Homo sapiens: one gene and its partners. The protein of the gene in region 2 interacts with the protein of the main gene of each other region in a pairwise test. Each region holds a gene or a part of one and is shown on either strand. Other genes may lie near its edges.

Evidence for each region.
Region 1: the proteins of CCDC13 (region 2) and RALBP1 interact in binary tests that used the Homo sapiens proteins (3 or more experiments, as listed by UniProt).
Region 3: the proteins of CCDC13 (region 2) and GMCL1 interact in binary tests that used the Homo sapiens proteins (3 or more experiments, as listed by UniProt).
Region 4: the proteins of CCDC13 (region 2) and KIAA1328 interact in binary tests that used the Homo sapiens proteins (3 or more experiments, as listed by UniProt).

The regions. Positions count from the first base shown.
Region 1 is NC_000018.10:9,520,508-9,527,534, forward strand, and holds part of RALBP1 (ralA-binding protein 1), read left to right. Parts: intron 1-1,652; coding exon 1,653-2,002; intron 2,003-4,086; coding exon 4,087-4,248; intron 4,249-5,212; coding exon 5,213-5,344; intron 5,345-7,027. UniProt on the Homo sapiens protein: Multifunctional protein that functions as a downstream effector of RALA and RALB. As a GTPase-activating protein/GAP can inactivate CDC42 and RAC1 by stimulating their GTPase activity.
Region 2 is NC_000003.12:42,763,227-42,770,253, forward strand, and holds part of CCDC13 (coiled-coil domain-containing protein 13), read right to left. Parts: intron 1-7,027. UniProt on the Homo sapiens protein: Required for primary cilia formation and promotes the localization of the ciliopathy protein BBS4 to both centriolar satellites and cilia.
Region 3 is NC_000002.12:69,874,649-69,881,675, reverse strand, and holds the end of GMCL1 (germ cell-less protein-like 1), read right to left. Parts: intron 2,768-7,027; coding exon 2,672-2,767; 3' UTR 292-2,671; downstream 1-291. UniProt on the Homo sapiens protein: Possible function in spermatogenesis. Enhances the degradation of MDM2 and increases the amount of p53 probably by modulating the nucleocytoplasmic transport.
Region 4 is NC_000018.10:36,825,079-36,832,153, forward strand, and holds the start of KIAA1328 (protein hinderin), read left to right. Parts: upstream 1-4,048; 5' UTR 4,049-4,060; coding exon 4,061-4,118; exon of another isoform or gene 4,119-6,074; intron 6,075-6,088; exon of another isoform or gene 6,089-7,075. Other genes in the region: TPGS2 (tubulin polyglutamylase complex subunit 2), read right to left, coding at 3,605-3,689. UniProt on the Homo sapiens protein: Competes with SMC1 for binding to SMC3. May affect the availability of SMC3 to engage in the formation of multimeric protein complexes.

The DNA of each region.
Region 1 (7,027 bases), on a different chromosome or scaffold from region 2:
CTTAAAATCTTATGTAATGTTTGCAAATCATTTGCTTTAGTTTCCTTTTGTTCAATAAGCAAAACGATTTTAGAAACCCATACTTTATTTTTTTTGTTCCAGCTCTGTTCAGATTAAGGTTATACTTAAAATAATCCAAACTTTAAAATAGAAATTAGATGGGGATGATTTAATGGAGAATAATTTTCAAAGTGTTTGTTTGGGTAGCTAATTCACCCTTTGCAATTACAGTACAATATTTACACATAAAAAAGTAATTTACCCACAACTTTTTGGAACATACTTAGGTACACCAAGCCACATTTTTTTGTGGTCAGTCTTGTGACTTGTTAGAAAAAGCAGCTGGCTGCCTGTGTAGAGCCAGACTTACACTTGGATTGTAGTTTAATTTTTGTCTTTTTACCTTTTTTTTTATTTTTTTGAGACAGAGTTTCACTTTTCACCCAGGCTGGAATACAGTAGTGTGACCTCGGCTCACTGCAACCTCCACCTCCTGGGTTCAAGCGATTCTCCTGCCTCAGCCTCCTGAGTAGCTGGGAGTACAGGCACCCGCCACAATGCCCAGCTAATTTTTGTATTTTTAGTAGAGACAGGGTTTCACCATGTTGGCCAGGCTGGTCTTGAACTCCCTACCTCAGGTGATCCACCTACCTCGGCCTCCCAAAGTACTGGGATTACAGGTGTGCGCCACTGTGTAATGTTTTTACATTAAAAACAAATTCCTGAATTAATGGGCATATTTGCTTAATATATCCATGGTTGCTTTGACTTCTGACTGTTGAGCTTTTCAATTATCATTTAACTTTTGGTTAAATTCACTTTTGAAGTTAGTTTTTTGGGTTTGTTTTTTGTTTTTTGTTTTTAGATGGAGTCTTGCTCTGTCACCCAAGCTGAAGTGCAGTGGTGTGATCTCGGCTCACTGCAACCTCTGCCTCCCAGGTTCAAGTGATTCTCCTGCCTCAGCCTCCCAAGTAGCTGGGATTACAGGCGCACACCACCACGCCTGGCTAATTTTTGTATTTTTAGTAGAGACAGGTTTTTGCCATGTTAGCCAGGCTGGTGTTGGACTCCTGACCTCAAATAATCCTCCTGCCTTGGCCTCCCAAAGTGCTGGGATTACAGGTGTGATCCATGGTGCCTGGCCTGTTTTTAATTATTTTTTTTATTTTTTGAGACAGTGTCTTACTCTGTTGCCCAGGCTGGAGTCCAGTGGTGCAATTATGGCTCACTGCAGACTCAACCTCCCAGGATCAAGTGATCCTCCCAACTCAGCCTCCCAAAGAACTTGGACCACAGGCGCACGCCACCATGCCCAGCTAATTTTTGTATTTTTTGTAGAGATAGGTTTTGACCATGTTGTCCAGCTAGTCTCGAATTCCTGGGCTCAAGCTATCTGCCCGCCTCAGCCTTCCAAAGTGCTGGGATTATGGGTGTGAGCCACTGCGCCCAGCCAAGTGTAGTCTTACATGTTAGTGTTTACAGAGGAACTGTACGACCTTTGTGCAGATAAATATTTCATAACAAGAGGTTCGTTATTGGTCAGGTTGCTGTTCTCATCTCCTTAGCAAGGGTGGGGATAATGGTAAAGAAAACTTGTGTGTTTGATTTTCTTTTCTCAGTATCTTCTCTCTTCTGAATTTGAATGTTTTAAGGAATTAAATCAAAGGTGGATGAGCTAAAAGCAGCCTATGACCGGGAGGAGTCTACAAACTTGGAAGACTATGAGCCTAACACTGTAGCCAGTTTGCTGAAGCAGTATTTGCGAGACCTTCCAGAGAATTTGCTTACCAAAGAGCTTATGCCCAGATTTGAAGAGGCTTGTGGGAGGACCACGGAGACTGAGAAAGTGCAGGAATTCCAGCGTTTACTCAAAGAACTGCCAGAATGTAACTATCTTCTGATTTCTTGGCTCATTGTGCACATGGACCATGTCATTGCAAAGGAACTGGAAACAAAAATGAATATACAGAACATTTCTATAGTGCTCAGCCCAACTGTGCAGGTACATGGTCTTCTCTACACATATACCCTCTGGTACTGACATTGGGGAACTGGGGTAATTTTCTATTGCTGAGTCACATGTAAAGCAGTGAACTTGAGGAGATAGGTAATGGATTAGCTTGAATACGGGTCTTTTCCTTTCATAATTTGGACAGTGTCAATGTATAAGATAACATACTTGCCCTTTAGCTTGTAGTGATGTAATTTGAATGCGGTACAGTCTTTGATGTGGGTTTATAAACAAGACCTGATGACAAGGATCCTTCATTAGGGGAGGAGGAGCCCATGGCATCTACAGTTATAGAGTTCGTGTGTAGAATTTTAGAGATCCCAGTTATTTAATCAATAGCATTATTGCTTCGTTAGATCACAGACACACATCAAACTCAGGCACAAAGGGACCTGTCATTAATTGTTTGGTCAAAGATTTAGCCTGAGGATTTCATTCATAAGGATGGATCCTAGAGAGACATGTTATAGGCTCTGAATCTGAAAAGGAACTTCAGGGAATTGGGTAGTGTGTTAATTGGTATCTTTTTACGACATACATACTTGGCTTTCCTTTATTGCTGCTCAGTTGGTGCTGTCATAGAGTATATGTTTTCTTTTAATTGCAGTTAATGATATTTTACTCAGGCCAATAAAAAGGGAGATGATAGGTTATATTTATTATCTTAAGCCCTCTTTTTGGCCAGTATTCTGAGTCACCATAAATCACTGTCACTGTTATTAGAGAGTGTTTTCATTTACTAAAGAGCGTTTCAGTCAGGCGCGGTGGCTCACACCTTTAATGCGAGCACTTTAGGAGGCTGTGGCAGGAGGATAGCGAGAGGCCAGGAGTTCAGCCTAGGCAACATAGCAAGACCCTGTCTCTACATAAAAATTAAAAATTAGCTGGGTGTGGTAGCATGTATGTGTAGTCCCAGTTACTTCGGAGGCTGAGGTAGGAGGATTGCTTGAGCCCAGCAGTGAGCTATGATCATGCCACTGTACTCCTCTCTGGGTGACAGAGCAAGATTTTATCTCTAAAAAATAAAGATTCTTCTGTTACTCATTGATTACGCTTTGAAAGCAAAATGTTTCTCAGATTTTAGTTTGATCATTAGGATTTCAGGATCTGGTAAATATTACATTGATACTTAATATTACTATAATATAATAGAGATGGTTGTATCATAGAAGAGTCAAGTGTGTTGTAAGAGTAAGTTTTAGGTAGGAAATAATTTCTTGTAGTAGCTTTTCAGCCAACCTAATGCCCTGGCCTCCTAGCATATGAACATCCATACTTAAATGCTGGCTGTGTCCAGGTATTTGTTTCTGGAGTGAGGGCTTTCAACCTCAACCCAGCTTTACTACTGTGGTGCTCCCACTTCCCTCATGGTCCTCATTCATTCCATTGCGTCTGTTAAAATATGTCAAAGTAAGTTGAAAATAAAGAATATAAGATGTTTTAGCCGGGCATGGTGGCTCACGCCTGTAATCGCAGCACTTTGGGAGGCTGAGGTGGGTAGATCATTTGAGGTCAGCAGTTCGAGCCCAGCCTGGCCAACATGGTGAAACTCCGTCTCTACTGAAAATACAAAAAAATCAGCCAGGTATGGTGGCACACGCCTGTAATCCCAGCTTACCGGGGAGGCTGAGGCAGGAAAATCGCTTGAACCCGTGAGGTGGAGGTTGCAGTGAGCTGAGATTGTGCCACTGCACTCTAGCCTGGGCTACAGAGCGAGGCTCCATCTCAAAAAAGCACCACCACCGCCACCAACAACAAAAAACACACAAAAAATAAGATGTTTAAATCAGTTAATACTGTGATAGAAAAAATAAACAAATGGATGGCATCAACTTCTCTATCCTTTTCTTGACTTTTTTTCCCTTCAGATCTTTCTGGTGCTTGAATACATGATTTAACTCATATTTTACCATTTTCTTCTTAAATTGGCTATTAACTAGCAAAGACTGTGTTGTCATTACTGGGTAGAATTTTCTTTATGTGTCCAGGATTAAAGGATATATTATGTAATAGACACAAATAAGTGAAATAGAATGATAGTTTTAATGGTTTTCTTGTAAATCTTTTTTTCTTAGATCAGCAATCGAGTCCTGTATGTGTTTTTCACACATGTGCAAGAACTCTTTGGAAATGTGGTACTAAAGCAAGTGATGAAACCTCTGCGATGGTCTAACATGGCCACGATGCCCACGCTGCCAGAGACCCAGGCGGGCATCAAGGAGGAGATCAGGAGACAGGTGTGTGCACCCTGCCTGCCACAGCCTGCCTCTGCATTGGCTGTTGTGGAGTCCAGTGGTGATGGGCTCTTGTTTCCTGAACACTTTCTGTGTGTCTGGAGCTATGTTAGGCACACTGAAGTCAGAAATTCCCATCTGGTACTGTTTCATGCCAAATAAGTCAGAATACCATGGTGGAAAGAGCATAGTTTTTGGAATCAAAACACCTGGCTTTAAATTCTTGCTCTGATCTAGTTAACTGATTTTAGGCAAATTCTTAACCACCTTAAGCACTGGTGTTCTTGCTTTAAAATGGATCCTCTTATAGGATTGATGTGAAGATTACCCCAAATGAGATAATATATGAAACATGCCAGGCACGTTGTAAATAGTCTAAAGATGTTTGCCTTTTCTTGACAAGGTTGCTGTCATCAGCCATATTTTATAGATAAGAATATTAAAATTCAGGGAAGTTAAGTAACTTACCCTGTGTGACATGATTACTAATTACAGACCCAAGATTTGAGCCCAAATCCTGGGATTTTTTACTGTGCTATTTTGATGGAAGTAACAATGCCGTGTGTGTGTGTGTGTGTGTGTGTGTGTAATTCAAGACTAAATAAGAAAGTTAATTACATTTGATTATTTATTTGCATGCAATTTATCAAACCCCTGCTTGCTTTTCTTCCCTTGTATCTGCCCTGAGCTCCCAATGCTTACTAGTTAATGATGATGACATTGGAGATGGGGATGTGGATTAAGTATTATTGAACCAATACAAATTAGTGAATAATTAATAGGCAAAACAATAAGAATGATTTTTCAATCATATCTTCAAAAAAATAATTAGTGCCATTATTTTACTCTAATGAAATAAAGGATAATTGAAAAATAGTTGATTCTTCATCTTTAGAAATTGCACGTGTTGTTAGTTTAAGATAAGAGGATATGAAATGCAACTAGGTGTGTGGCATTTGCTTTCTAGGAGTTTCTTTTGAATTGTTTACATCGAGATCTGCAGGGTGGGATAAAGGATTTGTCTAAAGAAGAAAGATTATGGGAAGTACAAAGAATTTTGACAGCCCTCAAAAGAAAACTGAGAGAAGCTAAAAGACAGGTGAGTTATTATTTTGATACCTAATGTTTATAATAGAATGTGTTTGAGTCTTTTATGTACTTTATGTACTCTTTTTTTTTCTTTCTTTCTTTTTTCTTTTGATGTTGACCAGGGTGGTCTCAAACTCTTGGCCTCAAGTAATCCTCCCACCTCGGCCTCCCCCAGAGTGCTGGGATTACAGACATGAGCCACCACCCCCAGCCCAAGTTCTTTCTGTTAAGAATATTATAATGTCACTTGAAGTGAACTTCTCTGGTGGGACATTTATTCACTAAAATGTTTCTAGTCCTATATTATTGATATTGCAGCCTGGTGTCAGTCACATGTTTCAGTGTAATCTAGAAAGTTTTTTTTTTTTTTTTTTTTTGAGACAGGATCTTGCTCTGTCACCCAGGCTGGAGTGCAGTGGCACGATAATGGCTCACTGTAGCCTCGACCTCCTGGGCTCAAGGGATCCTCCTACCTCAGCCTCCTGAGTAGCTGGGACTACAGGTGTGCGCCACCATGCTCGGCTCATTTTTTATTGTTTGTAGAAATAGGGTCTTGTTATGCTGCCCAGACTGGTCTCAAACTTCTGGGCTCAAGCAGTCCTCCCACCCCCCAAAGTGCTAGGATTATAGGCATAAGCCACCATGCCTGGCCTAGAAAGTTTTGTTTTAATTAAAAATGATTTTACTAAAAAATTTGTCATTTCCTGCTTGGTTATACCTGTAAACAGGGCTTTCTATGGATGAAAAACAGGCTGGATGGTGACACACCTTTGGGGACTGCTGGGGAATTTAAGGCATTTAGAATTAGTCAGCTCTTTGGAAATGTAGTGATGAGGGTCACCTGGAAGGCCTTGAAGATCAGGAGAGATTCTATTTATGTAATAATAATAAGAGTGGCCTGCAATACCTGATGAGTTTAGGGTATGCCAGTCAGACTTTTGAGTTCCCTCTTGTTTAGTGTGTGTTGCTTGGTTCTGGGACTGTGAGTGTACCAGCCACAGCAATGGTAAAATCCCAGATCTCTGGATCACCTTAAAATCCACATTGCAGATCAACTGCAGCATCTAAACAGCACATCCAAGGAACATTAGTTAGCCCTTGCCTGAATTGGGGAACATGATAGTAGGTCTCTGTTGTGGTTGTGTTAAAGAGACAAAGACAACCTGAATACTTCTGTTTCTTTGAGGTTAGAGATTTGTATTAATGTGGAGGATAGCTTTGTCACACGGGGCACATTCATGGGACTTTTACACGTGCGCTCCAGGATATGTAATGTAGCAGAAGCCCTCTGCGTATTTTTCTTCCTTCTTTTTCCTAGCTCACTAGGTTATCTATCTCTTGCTTCCTTTACGTGTTTTTTGTTTTTGGTGTTGGTGTTGCTGTTAAAATTTTCCCTTCATGTCTCAGCCTAGAATCAGGTATTAGAGATGGACCACTCAGGCTTCAGGGGCAAATTGTAATTGTTAATCATATGGCATTGCCAGTCAGCCTTTAAATGAAGAGTCCCCTGACTGACCTAGGACAGGGCTGATGGAGGTTTGGCTTTTGTTTCTCTTGCTTCTACATCTTGCCTAAATAAAGGAATCATGGTATAGCAGCCAGAACCAATATAAGAAGGGATGGATTAACTTTGCTTTACCGATTTTCCCGATGCTATGTTTTCACGCCAGCTCATTAATTCACAAAATGCACA
Region 2 (7,027 bases):
CTGGTACAAGAGTAGATTGCAGTCTGTTTAAATTCCTAGTCAGGTTACAGTTTACTACGTACAGAGAAACCTTTAGGCTGAACTTAGAATATATAAGAAGGCAGCTTTAGGCTACAGTTAGTTTAACACATCCCACAGACATTTTTGTTTGGCTCTTACAGAACACTATGTTAGGATTTGAATTTGTTGCCAACATTCAAAGAATTGTAGTTTCAATATCAGATTTCCAGTGTCAACAAAAACAGTCAAACTCTGTAAAATATTTGAAGAGATGTACTTTTTTTTTTTTTTTTTTTTAGATGAAGTCTCGCTCTGTCACCCAGGCTGGAGCGCAGTGGCACAATCTTGGCTCACTGCAACCTCTGCCTCCTGGGCTCAAGCAATTCTCCTGCCTCAGCCTTCTGAGTTGCTGGGACTACAGGCATGCACCACCACACCCAGATAATTTTTGTATGTTTTTGTAGAGACATGGTTTCACCATGTTGGCCAGGCTGGTCTTGAACTCCTGATCTCAAGTGATCCACCCACCTCAGCCTCCCAAAGTGCTGGGATCACAGGTGTGAGCCACTGCACCCAGTCTGAAGAGATTTATTCTGAGCCAAATGTGAGTGATCATGGCCTGTGACACAGCCCTCAGGAGATCCTGAGACCACGTGCCCAAGGTGGTCAGGGCACAGCTTGGTTTTATACATTTCAGGCAGACCTGAGACATCAATCAAATACATTTAAGATATATACCGATTTGGTCCAGAAAAGCAGGACAACTCCAAGGTTGGGAGGGGGGAGCTTCCAGGTGATAAGTAGATTTAAAATTTTTCTGATTGGTAATTGGTTAAAAGAGTTACTATAAATAGAAAGGAATATCTGGGTTAGAATAAAAGAGATAAAAGTTTTGATCATGCAAATGAAGCCTCCAGGTAGCAGGCTTCAGAGAGAATAGATTGTAAATGTTTCTTATCAGACTTAAGGTCTGTGTTGATGTTAAATGTTGGTCAACTTTTCCTGAATTCCAAAAGGGAGGAGGGTATAATGAGGCGTGTCCAACCCTTGCTTCCCATCAAGGCCTGAACTGGTCTTTCAGGTTAACTTTGGAGTGCCCTGGCTGAGAAGGAAGTCCATTCAGATGGATGGGGGGCCTCTGAATTTTATGTTTAGTTTACACCAGCTTCTTTTATAAAAGTTTACAGATCTGGCAATGCTGGGCCCATCGTCCCACACGGACAGCAGCTGCTATGCAGAGAGTTCCTTTGGTGCATAATAGGTTCTTTCCATTAAACCACTGTCCCTGCCACCTCCAGATGCTGCAGCTGGCACATCAGCTGCCCATTATCACTGCACATAAATGTTGTTCTTTCTCTTAAACCTGCTGGATTCACTTTTATTTCCCATCAGCCACAGCAGATGTTTTGGGTTTGTGGCTCCTGCTGTGGATTAAGCCCAGTGGCATCTCAGAGGCTGGCTTCAGCCACTCCTCTACCTGGGAGGCCTTCCTCCCAGGCCTCCCCATCCCAGCCCTTTACCTTCCCACTAACTCCCAGTTAGCCTCTAGGATTCCCCTCAGGGCACTCTGTGGACTCCCAGAATCCCTAGGGCACCCCTTGATCACTAAACTTAACCTCAGTGTATTATAATTATCTATTATTTTATTTACATTACTTCCCTTTACAAAGAGACCTCTTAAGGGCAGGGGTCCTAATACCTTATTCATTTGCTAAATCTCAACATCTTGCCCAGAACAGGCCTTCAACTGTCATTTGTAGAATTGTCACTGAATGAATGAACACAGTAACTTGTAAAGCTTTTCTCCTTTTCTACTCCCAATTTGCACTTGAAGTCACTGAGGAACTGGTACTCATTGAATGTACACTGTGCCCCAGGCAAATTACTTAACCTCTTTGCTTTCGTTTCCCATTTGTAAAATGGGACTCTGATACTTACGAACTTCACAGGGAGTTTGTGAGATTAAGTGGAAGAATGCATGGAAATAATTATCATTATCACTGTATGAAAAGTGGTGCTCTTGGCCCAACGGAGCCTCTGGGATAGACAGTAATGCCTGCACTGAGAGGACACCTGTGGTCCAGACCGGCCCCCAGAGTATTAGTATCTAATCTGTGCTATTCATGAGGCCAGTGGAGATTTGAAATTAATTATCTGGGCTGTGGCCAGGGTGTCTATTTTTATTTTTATTTTTTTGAGATGGAGTTTCACTCTCGTTGCCCAGGCTGGAGTGCAATGGCACGATCTCGGCTCACAGCAACCTCCATCTCCTGGGTTCAAGCGATTCTCCTGCCTCAGCCTCCCGAGTAGCTGGGACTACAGGCATGCACCACTACGCCCAGCTAACATTTTTGTATTTTTAAAGCTTCCCAGGTGAGCCTAACGTTCAGCTGGTTTGAGAATGAGAGGTGTTAAGCACTCTGAGAGGCTGTCTGGGGAGAGAGAAGCTGCAGGAGAGACAGGCATCTCAGTCAATTTGAAGCTGAATGCAGAAGAAATTCACCTGGGTGGGGAAGGGACGGTGCCTGAGTGGGGGGCAACGGGCTCTCCTGCCAGAACAGCATGTGCAGAGAATGTGATGAGTGTGGGGAACTATGAAAGGTTCAGAATGGCCAGAGGGCAGGGCACATTTGGGGAGGCACCAGAAGAAGGGTCTGATCTGCCCAGCTAAGGAGCCTGGACTTTATCCTGAGGCGCTGGAGATGTTCAGAGGGTGCACACAGGATCAGCTTTGCCTTCTGCAGAGCTGGAGGCAAAGGGCCTAGCTAGGAGGGGGTCTCTGGGAAGCCATGTGGGCCTAAATCAAAACTGTAGCAGTGGAGATGGAGGAGGGGGAAGAGGAATTGCTGCCAAATGGAAGGGACTGAAGGCAACTATGCAGAGAAGGAGAGGGGAGAAACCTAGGCGGTTTGGGTTTGAGTGACTGGGGAGACAGCAGGCCCTGACAGAGGAGCAGTTTTCCACGCTGCAGACAAGGTGGTGGACTTTGAGATGCTGGGTGGGCAGCTGGCTGGCTGAGATGCTGGGTGGGTCTGGGGTTCAGAAGGGAAGTCTGAGCTGGAGCCTCAGGTAGTTGAGACCTAGAGTATGAACAAAGCAGCATGAGGAGAAGGTGTAGAGTGAGGAGGTGGGAGAGAGGGAAGGAGAGGGAAGAGGAAGAAGAGACAGCTGGAAGCAAGTAACAGCCTGACGGGTTCATCTTGCCTGCTGTTCAGAAAACCAATGCACTAAAAACAGCGAGTTTTGCAGCAAAGAAAGAGTTTGATGGGCCAGTCAAGTGAAAGGAGGGGAGGTAATTCTCAGATCTTCCTCTCACTGCAGTGAGCCATGATTGCACCACTGCACTCCAGACCGGGGAAAAGAGCGAGATCCTGTCTCAAAGAAAAAAAAAAAAAAACAACCAACCAACCAAACAAACAAACTTCCTCTCCAAGAATATTAGCAAATTGAATCCAATGATGTATTTGAAAAATTATACCACATGACCAAATAGGAGTTACTTTAGGTATGCAAGGCTGGTTTAACATTAGAAAATCAATTAACATAAACCTATCACATCAACAGGCTAAAGGAGAAAAGTCACACAATCATATTAGTAGACACAGAAAAAGCATTTGACAAAATCCAATGCTCATTCATGATAAAAGCTCTAAGTAAACTAGGAATAGAGGGGAACTTCTTCAATTTGATTAAGAACATCTACAAAAAACATACAGCTACCACCATACTTAGCAGTGAGAAACTACACGCTTTACCCCTAAGACTGGGAACATGACAAGATGTCCCTTCTCTCTACTCTCTTTCAACATCATACTAGAAGTTCTACCTAATGGAATAAGCCAAGAAAAGGAAATAAAAGATATATATTTTGGAAAGGAAGAAATAAAATTGCCTTGGTTGCAGATGACTGATTGTCTATGCAGAAAATCTCAAAGAATCTATTAAAAAAAAAAAGAACAAAAAAACTCCTGGAACTTATAAGTGATTGCAGCAAGGTTGCAAGAAGTAAGGTTAATACACAGAAGTCAAATGTTTTCCCACATACTAGCAATAAGCAATGGAAAGCTCAAGTTAAAAATGCAATGCCATTTATATTAACACAAACATTGAAATACTTAGGTATAAATCTTACAAAATATGTGTAAGATCTATATTAGGAGAAATATAAAACTCTGGGAAAAGACTATAAACTATAAAACTCTGATAAAATCAAGAACTAAACAAATAGTTATCTCATGCACATGAATAGGAAGAATGAATATTGTTAAGATGTCAGTTCTTCCCAACTTGATCTATAGATTCAATGCAATTGCAATAAAGAAATCCCAGCAAATTACTGTATGGATATCGACAAATTGATTCCAAAGTTTATGTGGAGAGGCAAAAGATCCAGAATATCCAACACAATATTAAAAAAGAACAAAGGTGGAAAACTGACACTACCTGACCTTAAGACTTACTAGGCTAGGCGTGGTGGCTCACACCTGTAATCCCAGCACTTTGGGAGGCCGAGGCGGGTGGGTGGATCACCTGAGGTCAGGAGTTCAAGACCACCCTGGCAAATGTGGTAAAACCCCGTCTCTACTAAAAATACAAAAATTGCCAGGTGTGGTGGTGGGCACCTGTAATCCCAGCTACCTGGGAGGCTGAGGCAGGAGAATCGCTTGAACCCAGGAGGCAGAGGTTGCAGTGAGCTGAGATCGTGACATTGCACTCCAGCCTGGCCAACAGGAGCAAAACTCCATCTCAAAAAAAAAAAAAGACTTACTATAAAATGATAGTAATTAAGACAGTGTGGTATTGGTGAAGAAACAGACAAATGAATCAATGAAACCAAATAAAGAGCCCAGAAATAGATCCACATAAATAGAGTCAACTGATCCTTGACAAAGAAACAAAGGCAATGGTGCTGGAACAACGAATATCCATATGTAAAAAAGTGAATCTAGACACAGACCTCATCCCTGTCACAAATATTAACTCAAAATGGGTTATATACTGAAATGTAAACTGCAAAACTTCTAGAAGGTAATACAGGAGAAAATCTAGCTGACCTTGGGTTTGGCTATGAGTTTTCATATATAATACCAAAAGCATGATACATGAAACAAAAAAAATTGATAAATTCAACTTCATTAAAATTATAAACTTCTACTCTGTGAAAGATACTGTTAAGAAAATGAAAAGAGGCCGGGAATGGTGGCTCATGCCTGTAATCCCAGCACTTTAGGAGGCTGAGGCAGGCGGATCACCTGAGGTCAGGAGTTTGAGACCAGCCTGGCCAACATGGTGAAACCCTGTCTCTACTGAAAATAAAAAAATTAGCTGGGCATGTTGGTGTGCACCTGCAGTCCCAGCTACTCGGAAGGCTGAGGCAGGAGAATCGCTTGAACCCGGGAGGTGGAGGTTGCAGTAAGCTGAGATCACTCCACTGCACTCCAGCCTGGGCTACAGAGAAAGACTCAAAAAATAAAAAAAAATAAAAAACAAGAAAATGAAAGAAAAGAGAAGCCATAGAGACTGGAAGAAAACCTGCCAGACACATATTTGACAAAGGACTACATCCAACATATACAAAGAATTCTGATAACTTAATAATAAGAAAATACCCCAGTTAAAAAGTGGGCAAGGCCGGGCATGGTGGCTCATGCCTGTAATCCCAGCACTTTGGGAGGCTGAGGTGGGTGGATCACCTGAGGTTGGGAGTTCCAGACCAGTCTGGCCAACATGGTTAAACCCTGTGTCGACTAAAAATATAAAAATTAGCTGGGCGTGGTGGCAGGAGCCTGTAATCCCAGCTACTCAGGAGGCTGAGGCAGGAGAATTGCTTGAACCTGGGAGGTGGAGGTTGCAGTGAGCCGAGATCATGCCATTGCACTCCAGTCTGGGCAACAAGAGTGAAACGCCGTTTCAAAAAAAGAAAAAAAAGAAAAGTGGGCAAAAGATCTGAACAAACTCCTCAACAAAAAAGAAATATGGATGGCAAATAGACATATGAAAAGATGTTCAGCATCATATGTAATCAGGAAATTGCAAATTAAAACAAAAATGAGATACCATTACATACCTATTAGAATGGCTAGAATCCAAAACATTGACAACATCAAATGATGGCAAGAATGTGAAGCAACAAGAATTTCTATTTATTGCTGGTGGGGATGCAAAATGGAAAAGCCACTTTGCAAGACAATTGGGTAGTCTTTTTCAAAGCTAAACAGTCTTGCCATATGATCCAGTGATCATATTTACCTAAATGAGTTTAACAATATATCCACACAAAAACCTGCACATGAAATGTTCATAGTGAGAGGTGACAGCATGCTGGCAGCCCTCGCAGCCCTCGCTCACTCTGGGCACCTCCTCGGCCTTGGCGCCCACTCTGGCGGTGCTTGAGGAGCCCTTCAGCCTGCTGCTGCACTGTGGGAGACCCTCTCTGGGCTGGCCAAGGCCGGAGCTGGCTCCCTCAGCTTGCAGGCAGGTGTGGAGTGAGAGGTGCCGGTGAGAACTGGGGCTGCGCGCAGCGCTTGCCGGCCAGTGAGGGTTCTGGGTGGGTGTGGGCTCCGCAGGCCCACACTCCAAGCAGCCGGCTGGCCGCAAGCCCCTGGCAGTGAGGAGCTTAGCACCTGGGCCAGCAGCTGCTGTGCTCAATTTCTCACGGGGCCTTAGCTGCCTCCCCGCAGGGCAGGGCTGGGGACCGGCAGCCCGCCATGCCTGAGCCTCCCCCTGCCACCGTGGGCTCCTGCGCGCCCCAGCCTCCCCAACGAGCGCCACCCCCTGCTCCGCAGCACCTGGTCCCATCAAAAGCCCAAGGGCTGAGGAGTGCGGGCACACAGCGGGACTGGCCGGCACCTCCGCCTGGGGCCCTGGTGCAGGATCCACTGGGTGAACCTAGCTGGGCTCCTGAGTCTAGTGGGGACTTGGAGAACCTTTGTGTCTAGCTAAGGGATTGTGAGTGCACCAATCAGCACTCTGTATCTAGCTCAAGGTTTGTAAACACACCAATCAGCACCCTATGTCTAGCTCAGGG
Region 3 (7,027 bases), on a different chromosome or scaffold from region 2:
AAAAACAAAACATAACAAAACAAAACAGTGACTACCACTGTTCTCCACATGGTTTTGCCTATCTTGCTAAGTTTCCATGCCAAACCATTTTTTTTTAAAGGAAAGGTATTTATATCCCTTCTTAATAACTTAGTGTGAAACTCTAGGACATATTCTCTTAAAGACCTCTTCCTTACTAATAGACAAACACAAATCATTCTTAAAATTAAATATTGTTTTCTAGCTCTAGCATAAAAAAATAGTAGAGGCTGTAAGACAAAAGCTGACAAAACACAAAGCTTTCACAAACCATGGTTTATACAATACTTTATCTTACACTATTAACACTTTATTGAAAATATTTCTATTGAAAAGAACTCTGGAAACACATAAAAATATTTGGTAAGAAAACAAAAGCACATCTTTACTACCAGTGTGAATTACTACCTGACAATTATCAACTTCTCAAATAAGAACATTAACCTACTTGTGATTGAAGAAAGAATTATCCTGTCTATGGATGACATAAGCAACTTGGCCAGGACAGAACCAATGGATGAAACCACATATAAATCCAATTTGGCCAGTTAACTTATGTAAGTGAAATGAAACAGTTAACTTTATTCATTAATATGATCAAAACATTATCTTTACTTCCAAGATCTGCAAAAACTTAATTATCCAAATAATTTAAGTTTGGAATTTATATATTTTTCAATACATAAAGGGTAAGGAAACTCTTATACAGTAATGAGACGGAAAGAAAACAACAGCTTCCCGTGAAAAAGACCTAATGTAGTCAAATATAAAAATAAGTACAGTAGCCTCTTTTTTTTTTTTTTTTTTTTTGAGACGGAGTCTCACTCTGTCGCCTAGGTTGGAGTGCAATGGCGCAATCTCCACTCACTGCAACCTCTGCCTCCTGGGTTCAAGTGATTCTCCTGCCTCAGCCTCCTGAGTAGCTGAGATGACAGGCGTGTGCCACCATGCCTGGCTAATTTTTATTTTGTGTATTTAATAGAGATGGGGTTTCACCATGTTGGTCATGGCTGATCTTAAACTCCTGACCTCAGATGATCTGCCTGCCTCGGCCTCCCAAAGTGCTGGGCTTACAAGTGTGAGCCACCACACCTGGCTGACACCCAGCTGAAATGTAACCTCTTGATAACAGCCAAATCACTGTATTAGAAACATTTAAATTCCAGCTCTGAGGGTCAAGGGTGAGGCATTTAAAAGGTTCCTTTAAGTTAAACCAAATGGATGAATTTTAAAAGAACAAAAGCAATTTATGAACCTATGGGCATATCATTAAAAAAGAAAAAAATTATTAATAAATTCCAAAAGTTAAAAGGAGTTGGGAAAAAAACCTAACTAGAAAGAAAAAATTTTGGTTTCAATTAAGGGGGATTTTTTGGTCCATTTTATGTAAGAGCTTACTCTTTTTCCAAATGGGCATTTATTATTTGCACAGATACATAAAAATGATTCCCATTTTAAAAACCATAATAAAAATATACATTAACCACAGAAGTACTTACTCTAACTGGAAAGAAAATGAACATGGCTATTTTCAAAACAGTAATAAACACAAAAGGTCAACATACATAAATCATGACAAGTGTACATCTCATTTTTGACAAAAATAAGTTCCATTTTTACATTAATGCTTCATCATCAGGCTCCATATTACATCCTCTGACCTTATTTACATTTACTATGAAATTTCTATTAGCATGTGTCACTCAAAGGCACTCAATTCAGAGGGTAAAAAGTCCTGAGCTTAAGTAGGAAACAAAGTTCCCAACTAAAATTTGAACATAAATAATTCTAAAGATCAGAGAATATTAAAATGTTTAAAACTATAATATCTGGTACATAAATAATTCAAAACCTAATAATAAAGGTGTACAGACTGTCAAAGAAAAGACCATGTAAGGCAAGAAATATCCTTGGAATCAAACTGATTTTTCCCTCATTCAAGATCATTTGAAGGTGCAAAGCTAACTTTCACTGTTCTTAAACTCCTAGGAAAGTCAAATTAAAAAAAATAGCAATGACAATGCTTAAGTTTTAAAAAAAGTTTATCAGCTTAGTCTCCAAAACCAGGAAGAAAATATTTAATGATTAAAAACAAGTATGACCTGGAAAGATATTAGACTAAAAGGAGGAATCACAATGAGCAGGTGAAAATGTTAAAGGAAAGCTTTCAATACACCAACTGAAAAAGGCATTTCTAATTGGCCAACCAAATTATTCTTTTAGATTATTTTAGCCAAATAAAAAGAAATTTACAGATGGATAACTGAGGTCCACTAACATAAGGTAGAAACAAAGTTTAAGCTAAAAATTAAATCTATATTTTGTTGCAGATAAATGTGAGATTTACCTACAGCAATTTTCTATTGATGCTAAATTAAAAGCATGAATTGACATCGTTCTAACAGAAATGGTTTGACAGATATTTTCTTGGCTTTAAAATGTTCTTACGCATATGCATAGAAATGCAATGAGGATAAGAATAATCTTCTGTATTGTCTGTACAGTTCATAAGGCCTTTGTCATTGTTAGTCACCTTCGATGTGAATATCAGTAGGGCCATTAAATTAAAGCTGGCCTAAAAAGTTTTCAAAGTGCTACTGTTTCCAACTGATGAAATCTTCAGTTTTCTGGATTTTCTGGGTGACGATTATTTTCAATTCTTTTTTTCTGGTGATATATACAAGAAGTTACAGCAGATATATAAAGGGAAGATCAGAAGCCTGCTGTCCAAGTTCATCACCACTTGTTCCTATAAGACAGATTTGTAGATTCAATGACAATTAGATAAAATAAAAACAAAAAACCAAACTGTTGAACTGAGTGAACCAAAGGAGATAGTGTCCTGAGTCTGAGATCCACAACTCCACTCTCCAAACTCCCACCCATTAGCTGTGTGACCTTGTCAAATGCAGCTTCCTCACTGTAAGATGGGGACAGTAAGAGTACCTGACTTAAAGGAGGATTACAAGAGATAATACACAGGGGGTTTTGCAAAGCCAGCTATCTATTAAGTACTCAATAATGGTAGTTATTTTCATTATTGCAAAAATTTCTATCAAATACTTACATATTTTGTCAACAGATACAATGTCTAGAAATACATAAACTTCTCACTGGGCTTCAATTTTTAAAAAAATTTATTTCCTTTTACAAAATTAATTAATTATTTTTAAAAATGAGATAGGGTCTTTCTATATTGCCCAAGCTGGCCTTGAACTCCTGGGCTCAAGAGATCTTCCTGCCTCATCCTCCCGCCTCAGCCTCCTGAGTAGCTGGGACTACAGGCAGGTGCCACTGTGCCTGGCTACTTGGCTTCAATTACTGATGGCCGTTGGGTACAGCAAATCACCCAGATGAAGGTCGGGAGTCATTATCATCATCAAAAAGCAGGGTTCCTACTATTGACATTTCCCACTGTCCCTATGACAAACATGTAATTTGTCTCCTGAAACATAAAATACATTATCATGGAAAAGCAATTTCAGGTTCAGTTACATCAACACACACAAGAATGCTCAGAACTCCCAGAGACAGGAGCTGACACTACACAAATATAACATCCCTGATGCTACAGATCTCTGTTTGGAACCTCATATATCCTTTACTAGAAGCATTTGGTAAATAGAATCAATCCTCAGAGTAAAAGAAGAAACACTAAAATGAGAATTCCTACGTTTTAAATGCCTGGGATATGCTCTCTGCAATAGTATGCATTAGTTACACTTTATTTATTTTGGATAAGATACTATTAAACACTGTTTAAATCCAAAGTTTTAATTTTTTACTGAGACATGTATTCCTGCATGAAGAGGAACTAAAACTAGAATATCTGTGTGACTGAAGCAGACTCACTAGACACAGCTTCTGTGTTGAGGGAACAAGAAGATAAATTTGAATAAAGAAGGTAGAGAGTACAAATGTCTCACACACACACACACACACACACACACAAACACACAATCTCTCTCTCTGTACGAGGGAAAGTGGTATTATAAAAAGACATCAGTGAACAAAATCAGGGGAGGCCATCACCTAGACTGTGCTAACAAGTGTCACCAGAGAGGAATTATGCCAAAGCATGGTTGGTCTTCAGATGCTTGAGACATCCTGAACTAGTCAAAATTTATATCAATAATCTGGGTGAAGGCACATTTACCAAATTTGTTGAGGACAAATGTTTTGATGATATGTATATCTGATGATAAAAATCAAGATTCTGTTCCATAACTAAAAGGCTCTGAGGAAGATTAGCCTTCTAGTATTTGAATACAGTTAAGATTGAGGCAGGGAAGGGTAGGTCAAAGGGCCAACTCTGGAGAAAGAAGGAAGGCACGTGGATATCACTTGGCTGAATGGATACACCAATTTTTGAATATTAAATTGTATTAATCCCCACTCTCCATTCCCAAACAGGATAGGTCGATCCGAGCTTCATCAAATCTGTTGTTTCACCTAAAGGTTCAATCTGCATCTACATTTGCATTGAAGTACCTTTATAGCAAAGTTCTATTTTCCTTATTCCATTGTGGATGGAATCTGTGGAGCCCACATATAGCAGCAGCAGAGCAGCAGCAACTTCCTAGGTCCCCATTTCTACTTCCAGACAATTAAATAAATTTCTGGGTATTTGTTGTTGTTGGTAGTGTTTTTTGTCTGTCTGTTTTTGTTTTGAGACAGGGTCTGACTCTGTCACCCAGGCTGGAGTGCGGTGGCATGATCATGGCTCATTGCAGCCTCAGCCTCCCAGGCTCAAGTGATCTTCCTGCCTCAGCTTCCAAGTAGGTGGTACCACAGGCACATGCCACCACGCCCGGCTAATTTTTCAATTTTTTGTATAGATAGGGTTTTGCTAAGTTGCCAGGGCTGGTCTTGAACTCCTGGTCTCAAGCAATCCTCTGGCCTTGGTCTCCCAAAGTGCTGGGATTACAGGCATGAGCTACCACGCCAAGCCTGCAATTTGGCTTTGATTCTCCATCCCAGCTTTTCAATGTCTCACCAGGTTACCTTTTTTGTCCATCTCTTAAATACCAGTGGTCCCTAGGGTTCTATCCTGTCATATTCTCTACACATTTCCTGTACATTATCTCATCCAATTATTATTTCTAGTTCAGGCATTACTTGTAAACTCCAAATCCATTATTCACCAGCCTATCAAATTTTCACCTTGATGCTCTCAAATTAAACATGCCCTAAACAGAATTCATCATCTCTTCACCATCACCAACACTATGTCATGTTCATTTTCCTTCCTATAATTCAAATCTCAGGTAAAACCACTACTGTAAATTAAATTGCTCAAATCAGAAAACCATCTGACATTTCCTCATGCACACACACAATTAAGAATCAAATTCTCAATTGCACCACTTTATTTCCAGAACCCATCAATATTTTCCTCTTCATTGCTACATTCTTTAAGGTTCTTATCACTTTTAATCTGAATTATAGCTATATAATCATAAATTGTTTTATTGCCATTATCATATCTTTAATCCTTCCTACACATTGCTGTCTGACGGAACCTTCTATAGTGAAAATCCATTTAGCATGGTCTTATAAGATGGACAGTTACAAAATAAATATACAAAAATCACTAACTTTCTTACATTATCAAAAACTATTAGAACAAATGATTCATTTCATATTAGCAACTGAAATGTAAAATACTGGCTGGGTGCGGTGGCTTACACCTGTAACCCCAGCACTTTGGGAGCCTGAGGTGGGCGGATCACGAGGTCAGGAGATCGAGACCATCTTGGCCAACAGAGTGAAACCCTGTCTCTACTAAAATACAAAAAAGCTGGGCGTGGTGGCATGTGCCTATAATCCCAGCTACTTGGGAGGCTGAGGCAGGGGAATCGCTTGAACCCGGGAGGTGGAGGTTGCAGTGAGCTGAGATCACGCCACTGCATTCCAGCCTGGCGACAGAACAAGACTCCGTTTCAAAAAAAAAAAAAGAAATGTAAAATACTAAGTGTTATACTTCCAGGAAATACACAGGAACAATATGGGAAAAACTACAAATTTTAGAGACAGACATAAGGGAAGACCTACGTAAATGTAGAAAATACCATATTCCAGAAAGGAAGACATCAATGGTCCACAAACTACTCTACATATTTAATCATATAAATTAAAATCCCCATAGGAATTTTTGCAAGGAAACTTGATAAAATGATCCTACATCCCATACAGGAGAATAATCATGCACAAAGAACTGAGAGATTTTTGAAAAAAAGAAAAATGAAGGTGGTTTTGCGTAACTAAATATTAAAATGCATTTTAAAGTTAGCCTAATTAAAACAATGCCTTGTCTTCATAACAAAGAAATCAATAAAACAAAAAGTCCAGAAATGAAAGCAAGTTTATAAGTATTTCATGTACAATAAGGCATTTCAAATACATTGATACATCCAGTACATTTCAGATATATCGTCAAATACTCCAAAGTAAAAAATTAAGCCATAAAAAGAACAGAAGAATATATAGATGACTATTTATATAATCCTAGTAAGATGGAGGCCTAAGGATAACACCAAAAAAAAGAAATCATAAAAGAAAAAGATAGATTGTTTTGAAGGTTGAAAAGACAAATGACAAAAATGTAAAAACTGTTTGGGCCTGGTGGCTCATGCCTGTAATCCCAGCACTTTGGGAGGCGGAGGCAGGTGGATCACTTGAGCCTAGGAATTCCAGACAAGCCCAGGCAACGTGGCAAAACCTCGTCTCTATAAAAAAATACAAAAAAGTTAGCTGGGCATGGTGGTGCGAGCCTGTAGTCTCAGCTACTTGTGAGGCTGAGGTGCGTGGAAAGGTTGGGCCCAGGAGGTGGAAGCTGCAGTGAGCCAAGATTGTACCATTGCACTCCAGCCTGAGTGACAGAGTGACAACCTGTCTCGGAAAAAAAAAAAAAAGTAAAAACTATAGAGTATCACAAATGTATTTTTAATATATAAAAGCTGTTAAAAATTAGCAAGAAAAAAATGAAATTTTAATAAAAAATTAAACA
Region 4 (7,075 bases), on a different chromosome or scaffold from region 2:
AGAACCATTTGTTGAAAAACTATTTTTTCCCATTGAGAAGTCTTAACATATTTGTCAAAAATCAATGAATCAGGCCGGGCACGGTGGCTCACACCTGTAATCCCAGCACTTTGGGAGGCCGAGGCAGGTGGATCATGAGGTCAGGAGATCGAGACCATCCTGGCTAACATGGTGAAACCCTGTCTCTACTAAAAATACAAAAAATTAGCCAGGCGTGGTGGTGGGCGCCTGGAGTCCCAGCTGCCCGGGAGGATGAGGCAGGAGAATGGCTAGAACCCGGGAGGCGGAGCTTGCAGCGAGTGAAGAGCACACCACTGCACTCCAGCCTGGGCGACAGAGCGAGACTCCGTCTCCAAAAAAAAAAAAAAAAAAAAAATCAATGAATCATAAATATGATGTTTATTTTTGGACTCTCAATCTTATTTCATTGATCTACATTTCTAGTTTTATGCCACTACCACTCTGAAGACAACTGTGGCTTTAAATTTTTTAAATTGTATTAAAATACACATAACATAAAATCATCATTTTAGTCAATTTTAAGTGTACAGTTAAGTGGCATAAAGTACATTCACACTGTTGTACAACCATCACCAGAACTTTTCCATCATCTCAAATATAGTATAGGGAAATGTGAGTAAGAGGAACTTTTTTCCTGTTTTGGAAAGAAAAGTTTATCTTGGCTACTCTGGGTCTCTTGCATTTCTATATTATATTTTAGGATTAAATTAGCTTCCTGATTTCTACAAAAGAGACAGTTGAGATTTTGATGGGAACTGGAGATGTGAGATTTGTAGATCAATTTGGGGAGTAACAGATTTTAACAATATTAACTCTTCCAATCCATAAACATGGTATGTCTTCTCATTTATTTTGGTCTTCTTTAATTTCTTTCCACAGTCTTATGTAATTTTCAGTACATAAGTCATGGACATCTTGTGTTAATTTATTCCTATTTTATTCTTTTATTTTTTTTGAGATAGGGTCTCACTCTTGTTGCCCGGGCTGGAGTGCTGTGGTGTGATCACAGGTCACTGTAGCCTCGAACTCCTGGGCTCAAGCAATCCTCCTATCTCAGCCTCCTGAGTAGCTAGGACTAAGGCATGCACCACCACACATGGCTAATTTTAAAATATTTCATAAAGGCTATGTTGCCCAGGCTGGTCTGCAACTCCTGGTCTCAAGCAATCCTCTCACCTTGGCCTCCCAGTGTTGGGATTACAGGTGTGAGCCACTGTGCCAGCTACATTTTATTCTTTTCAATACTATTGTAAATTGAATTGTTCTTAGTTTTATTTTTGGATTGTTCATTGCTGGTGTATAGGCTGTGTGTGTGTGTGTGTGTGTGTGTGTGTGTGTGTGTGGATTCCTTAGGATTTTTTATATACAAGATCATGTCATCTGCAAACAGATAGCTTACCTTCTTCCTTTTCAATTGGATGTCTTTATTTCATTTTCTTGCCTAATTGCCCTAGCTAGAAACTCCAGTACAATGTTGAAGAGAAGTGATAAAAGTGGAATTCTTGCCATGCAGAAAAGAGTGAACATAGCAGGCCCGAGACAATAATCCTCAGAAAGGTCTGCCAATCGGGCTGCCAAAATCCTTTTGTTGTAATGAATCATAGCCATGAGTAGGACTATCTCCTGAGTCCTGTAATCCTTGCGTCAAATCATTGAATCTGGTGTGATCTTGGGGAACCCTAATACAATTTTTGTTCCTGATTTTAAGGGGAAAGCTGCCAGTCTTTCACCATTACATATGATGTTAGATGTGGGTTTTTCATAGATGTCCTTCATCAGGTTGAGGAAATTCTATCTCTATCCCATCCTATTTCTAGTTTGTTGAGTTTTTTTTAATCAAGAAAGGTTAGATTTTGTCAAATGCTTTTTTTATTAAGATGATTATGCAGTTTTTGTCTTATTCTATTAGTAAGTTGTATTATATTAATTGATTTTTTTTAAGTTTCTTTTTTTTTAGTGACAGGGTCTTGCTATGTTGTCCAGCTGGACTTGAACTGGGCTCTAATAACCCTCCCACCACAGCCTCCCCAGTAGCTGGAACTAAAGACATGGGCCACCATGCCCAGCTATTAATTGATTTTCATATGTTAAAACCACTCATTCCTAAATCACACTTGGTCTTGGACTTCTATTAAAAGAGACACAAATTTTAAAAATCAACCAAACAAATACATAATTTCAAGTAGTGAAAGTGCTATAAGAATAAAAGAAAAAGCAGGGTAAGGAAAGAGAGAGCAAGAAAGACGGCGGTTATTCGAACTATATTCAGGGAAGGTTTCTCTGAAATAATGACATTTGATCAGAGATCTGAATGACCTGAAGAAGCGAGACATTCAGAGAAAGATAATTCCAGGTGCAAGGACTAGCAAACTGCAAAAGCCCTGAAGCAGGAACCCGCTTAGTGTGTTTAAGGTACAGCTAGAAGGCCATGTGGGCAAGAGTGGAAACAAAGTCAGAAAGAGATGAGAGCAGATCTTACAGGGACTTGTGGGTCATGGTACAGACATTTGGATTTTATTATAATTGTGATGGGAAGGCACTGAAGCATGCTTTTCAGCCTTCTTAAAAGACCTTTCTCCTCCTTAGTTTTCTGGCTAACTCCTATATGTCTTTCAAAATCTAGCATCATCTCCTCTGTGACATGTTCTTTAACTTCCCTGGTAAGATCAGTCCCCTCCTCTGTGACATCTCTGAGTAACAGATTACTGACCTCTTTTCACACTCCTAGTGACCTCATTTGTTTATTTTTTTCACAGAACTGTGTCTTTTTCATATTTTTAACCTCACGTCTAACATAGTGGTGAGTACTAAAGAAACGTTTGATAGGCCAGGCGCGGTGGCTCACGCCTGTAATTCCAGCACTTTGGGAGGTCGAGGCGGGTGGATCACCTGAGGTCAGGAGTTCGAGACCAGCCTGGCCAACATGGTGGAACCCTGTCTCTACTAAAAATACAAAAAAATAGCTGGGCGAGGCAGGAGAATTGCTTGAACCCAGGAGGCGCAGGTTGCAGTGAGCCGAGATCGCGCCATTGCACTCCAGCCTGGGCAACAAGAGCAAAACTCTGTCTCAAAATACAAACAAGCAAGCAAACAAAGAAATGTTCGATAAAAGAAAAACTCTGAGTCATTCAGTGGTGCAAGGTTGGATTCCTTTCAGACCCGACGTAGTTGTCGCCCTGGGAGGTCGGGTGCATTACTTCCCCCAGAGAAAGGTCTTGGGTTTCGGGGATAATGCCCTGGCTGAGAATGCCTCCTAGGGGGAGATCCAACTTCCCAACCGTCAGGTGCTTGCTGTGTTCCCTTTGCACGTCTCTGCCCGTCCTTCCTGGGTGGGACCTTGGTTGGCGGTGAGTGGGGGAAACTTCAGGCTTCCCAGCTCTGCCTCCGAACACTCCTGGCAAACACTTTCAAGGCCTAATCACAAACCCAGGTCCCCCACTTTCCTCTGTAACAACGGAAGTCCCAGCAGCGATGTCCACTCCTGTTCTGGGGCCAGCGTCGCACCGCTCACCCCGCACCTCATCCCTCCGCTCCTCCTTCCTTCTCCTCCACACCCTCTCGGCACCGTGCCCCCTTTCCTCACCTAGGATGCGCGTGATGCCCAGGGTCAGCTTCTCCAGGTGCGGCTTGCTGCAGCCCAGCCCCGGGGACGATGCCTCCTCCTCCATGGCTCGCGACCGCGATTCGCGCGCGGCGGGAGCGGGTGGAGGGCCGGACCCCGCCTCAGCGCCGAGGCCAATTTCATGGCATGCCGGGAACGGTAGTTCTCGGCGCCTGAAAGCGCGGCGCAGTGATGATGGGGGCCCGGGGTTGGTCTGACAGCAGCAGCTCCGTGGGGCGCCGGTTCCCGCGGCCCCGCCCGGTGCCCCACACCGCACCTCCGGGACGTAGCTTCCCCTTCGCCCCCACCCTCTCGCCCCGCAGGGGCCGGCCGCGCAGGCGGGGGCGGGCCTCTGCGTGGTGCGGCCAATGGGGACCGAGCCTGCAGGCCGAGGCGTGGCGGCCCAGGCGCGACGCCCCGAGTGGCGGTTGTTTCAAGATGGCGGACGTGGCGGGCCCCTCCCGCCCCAGTGCCGCGGCGTTCTGGAGCCGGGACTGTATCCTTTGCCCGCCTGACAGGGGGCGCCGGCGCCCTCCACGGGACGGCGAGGGGCGAGCCGTCGCGTGGCAGTCCGAGAGCGGAGGAGAAGCTCCGAACTAACCCCGGGGATGGGGACGTGCTGCTCGGCCCCAGTCTAGGTGCTGGGCTCTCCCCTTGCTTGGGTGTTAGGTGGCCGAGAGACTGGTACTGTCTGCAGGTGTGGGGACACGGCTCAGATGCTTCCCAGCGCTCACTACCGGTGAGCTCGAGAAAGATAGCCTTGAGTCCAGGCTCAGTCCAGGGCTGAGATGGCCCTCCGAGGTCCCTCTGCCCACCCTGTCAGAGTGCCCCCAGGCTGACTTGAGTGTGCGGAGCTAGCTCGAAGTTGAGGGAGGAGTCGGTGTTGGCTGGACAGGGAGCCTTTTTGTTTTGATTTAGGATTGTCTTTAGTCTGCATTGCTAGGAGCAAGTCAGGACCTTTCGGACTTAAAAGGCCCTCCAGTGATGATGTATTTTAATACTGGGGTTTTAGGAGAGGTGTGGAGCTTGGTTACTGGGATGTGGTCTGGTGGTGCTGGTTACTGCGTAAGATGGGAATCATTGTGCCTGGAAGTATTGTTGACTTACTTGTGGAGTGCGGGTCACTGGCAGTCATTGAAGTTCTTGGATCGTTGTGAGGTGGAGAAGCAGTGGAACTTTTTAGTCCAGTGGTAGTATTACCAGTTCAGCAGCAGTGATGAGATGTTTGTGTGACAGGAGTGTTTCTTTCCTTGGAGTAGGTAGACTCTTCTCGCTTGAGCTTTGGTCCTGATAATTTACTTCACGTTCCTTAGAGGGGTTACTTGAAAGAGGGACGGCAATCTGTGTTACTGAGTGCTTGCAGAGGCAGCTCTTTTTGTGTTTGCTAGGATTGGTGATGGCATTAATTGAGGCGTTGCTGTTACCTTTGGCAGAATCACTGGGCATTCTTCTTAGCTCCCAGTGAAACTTACAAAACTGTGTTATCAACTCCTTTGTTGAGTTACTAGGATTAGTGTCATGTGTAGAGAGAGGGATATGTTTGTATTCTGTGCTGCTCGTGTTTAGTGTTTGCACTTACTAGACATAATTACCATTTGTCTCTGATAGGTTGGTGAAAAGCAAATGAAATCATGTACATACACTGTGGATGAAAGCATACTAGTGCAGTGTGCAAATTAAATATTTTTTCCTTTACCTTTCAGAAGAGAATATGTGCACTGTGGACAACTGGGCTGAATTAGGAAGTTAGGAAATTGGGATAAGTCTTTTCTCAAGAAACACTGCTTCTGCATTGACATAATTTTGTGATGGAGGAGATACTTGAAGGTTATTAGCTTATAGCATCCTATGGTACTGTTCAAATATAGAATCAATGGTTTGGGGGGGGGACAAGCTATTGCAATGGGACTGAATAAGTGTATTAATAGATATATGGACTGAACCTAAGCTCTTGGTCTTCGCACCCAGTACTTTCACTTACTCATGTAGTTATATCACCCCCTATTTTATGTAGAAGTCATATATACTCCGTTATCTCTTGTATTCTGACTCCCAACATTTAATGTAAAATATTCGTCCTCTCATAGATAGTGAGGAATTGAAATTGTACAGGGGAAAAATGGTGGCGATTATATCCTATAAGATCTAATTCAGATGTATGAAAGGAATTGCAAAGTTGCTAGTGTCACCTTTCCCCTCAGACTATTCCACGTAATGACCAGTTAACATCGAGCCTCAGATATTTTCATTTTAAATCTCCATAGAGAATGTCACTGTAAGCAATGTCAAATGTAAATTTGTTACTGAATATTTGCTGAAAAGCATAATGATAGTTATTAATCATTTGATTTAGTTACATGTCTTTGCATCTTGATTCCTTTGTCATATTGATTATTTCCCAGACCACCCTAGAGCCTTTATAGTAGAATTTTCAATAGAAAAAGACCAAAAAGTAAGTACCTATAATCTGGTATTCTTTTCACACTATTGAAAAAAGATTTTCAATACTTCACCTAAACATTTAGAGAAATGTGATGGAGAGATTTCTTAGTCCTTGATGTTTCCATCATGAGAGGACAGATCATCTGTGACTCAATGGCACCTTTTTTTTTTATTGTTGTTGTTGTGAGTTATACATCTCCTGCACAGTATGATTCAGCAGTGCTGTTTTGCACAAGGAACGTTTTAGTACCTCATCTGTAAACAATGAGTGTGTGGTGTTGTCATGTTATGGGTTAAATCTTCCAGCAAAATATGCTCCTTCAGTTTAAGTTGCCTTTGTCCTTCATTACAGTTCCTAGTAATGTCAGAATGAGTTAGTGTTTCAGCAGTACCTAAATTTGACTGCTTAAATGCACTCAAGTGTATTACCATTAGCAATATCATGGACTTGATATTAAAAAATATGAACTGCAAGTGACCTGGTCAAAACATTGCAGTATAATCTCTGCTGTTGAGTTTTCAAATGGAAACAAAGACTGTATGTTGTGGTAAAAATAATATATTAGCCCAGAAAGTCTCTGTGGTTGATAATAATTACATATACATGTATTGCTGGCAAAACTCAGCAGATTAGAGTAGAATGGGCAGTACTGAACTTATTTCCTTCAAATCCTGGAGGTCTGGGATAGAGGTGCATCTTCCTCTCTACCACTTCTGCCTGGGTTTCTAATTACAGTTAGCCCTCTGTATCTGCTGATTCATTCAAATGTGGATGGAAAATATTTGAGAAAAAAAAGAAATAGCACACAAAAAAATACAAATTAAACTGTACAATTTAACTACTATTTATATAGCATGTACATTGTTTTAGGTATTATAAATAATCTAGAAATGACCCACTAGTAGGCCCACTATACATTTGGTATATAATGTGTCTGTTTGACTTCCCCATAAAATATACATTTGTTGGGAAATTCTAGATTTGAAGGAGGTAAATATTTGGGTTCTTAA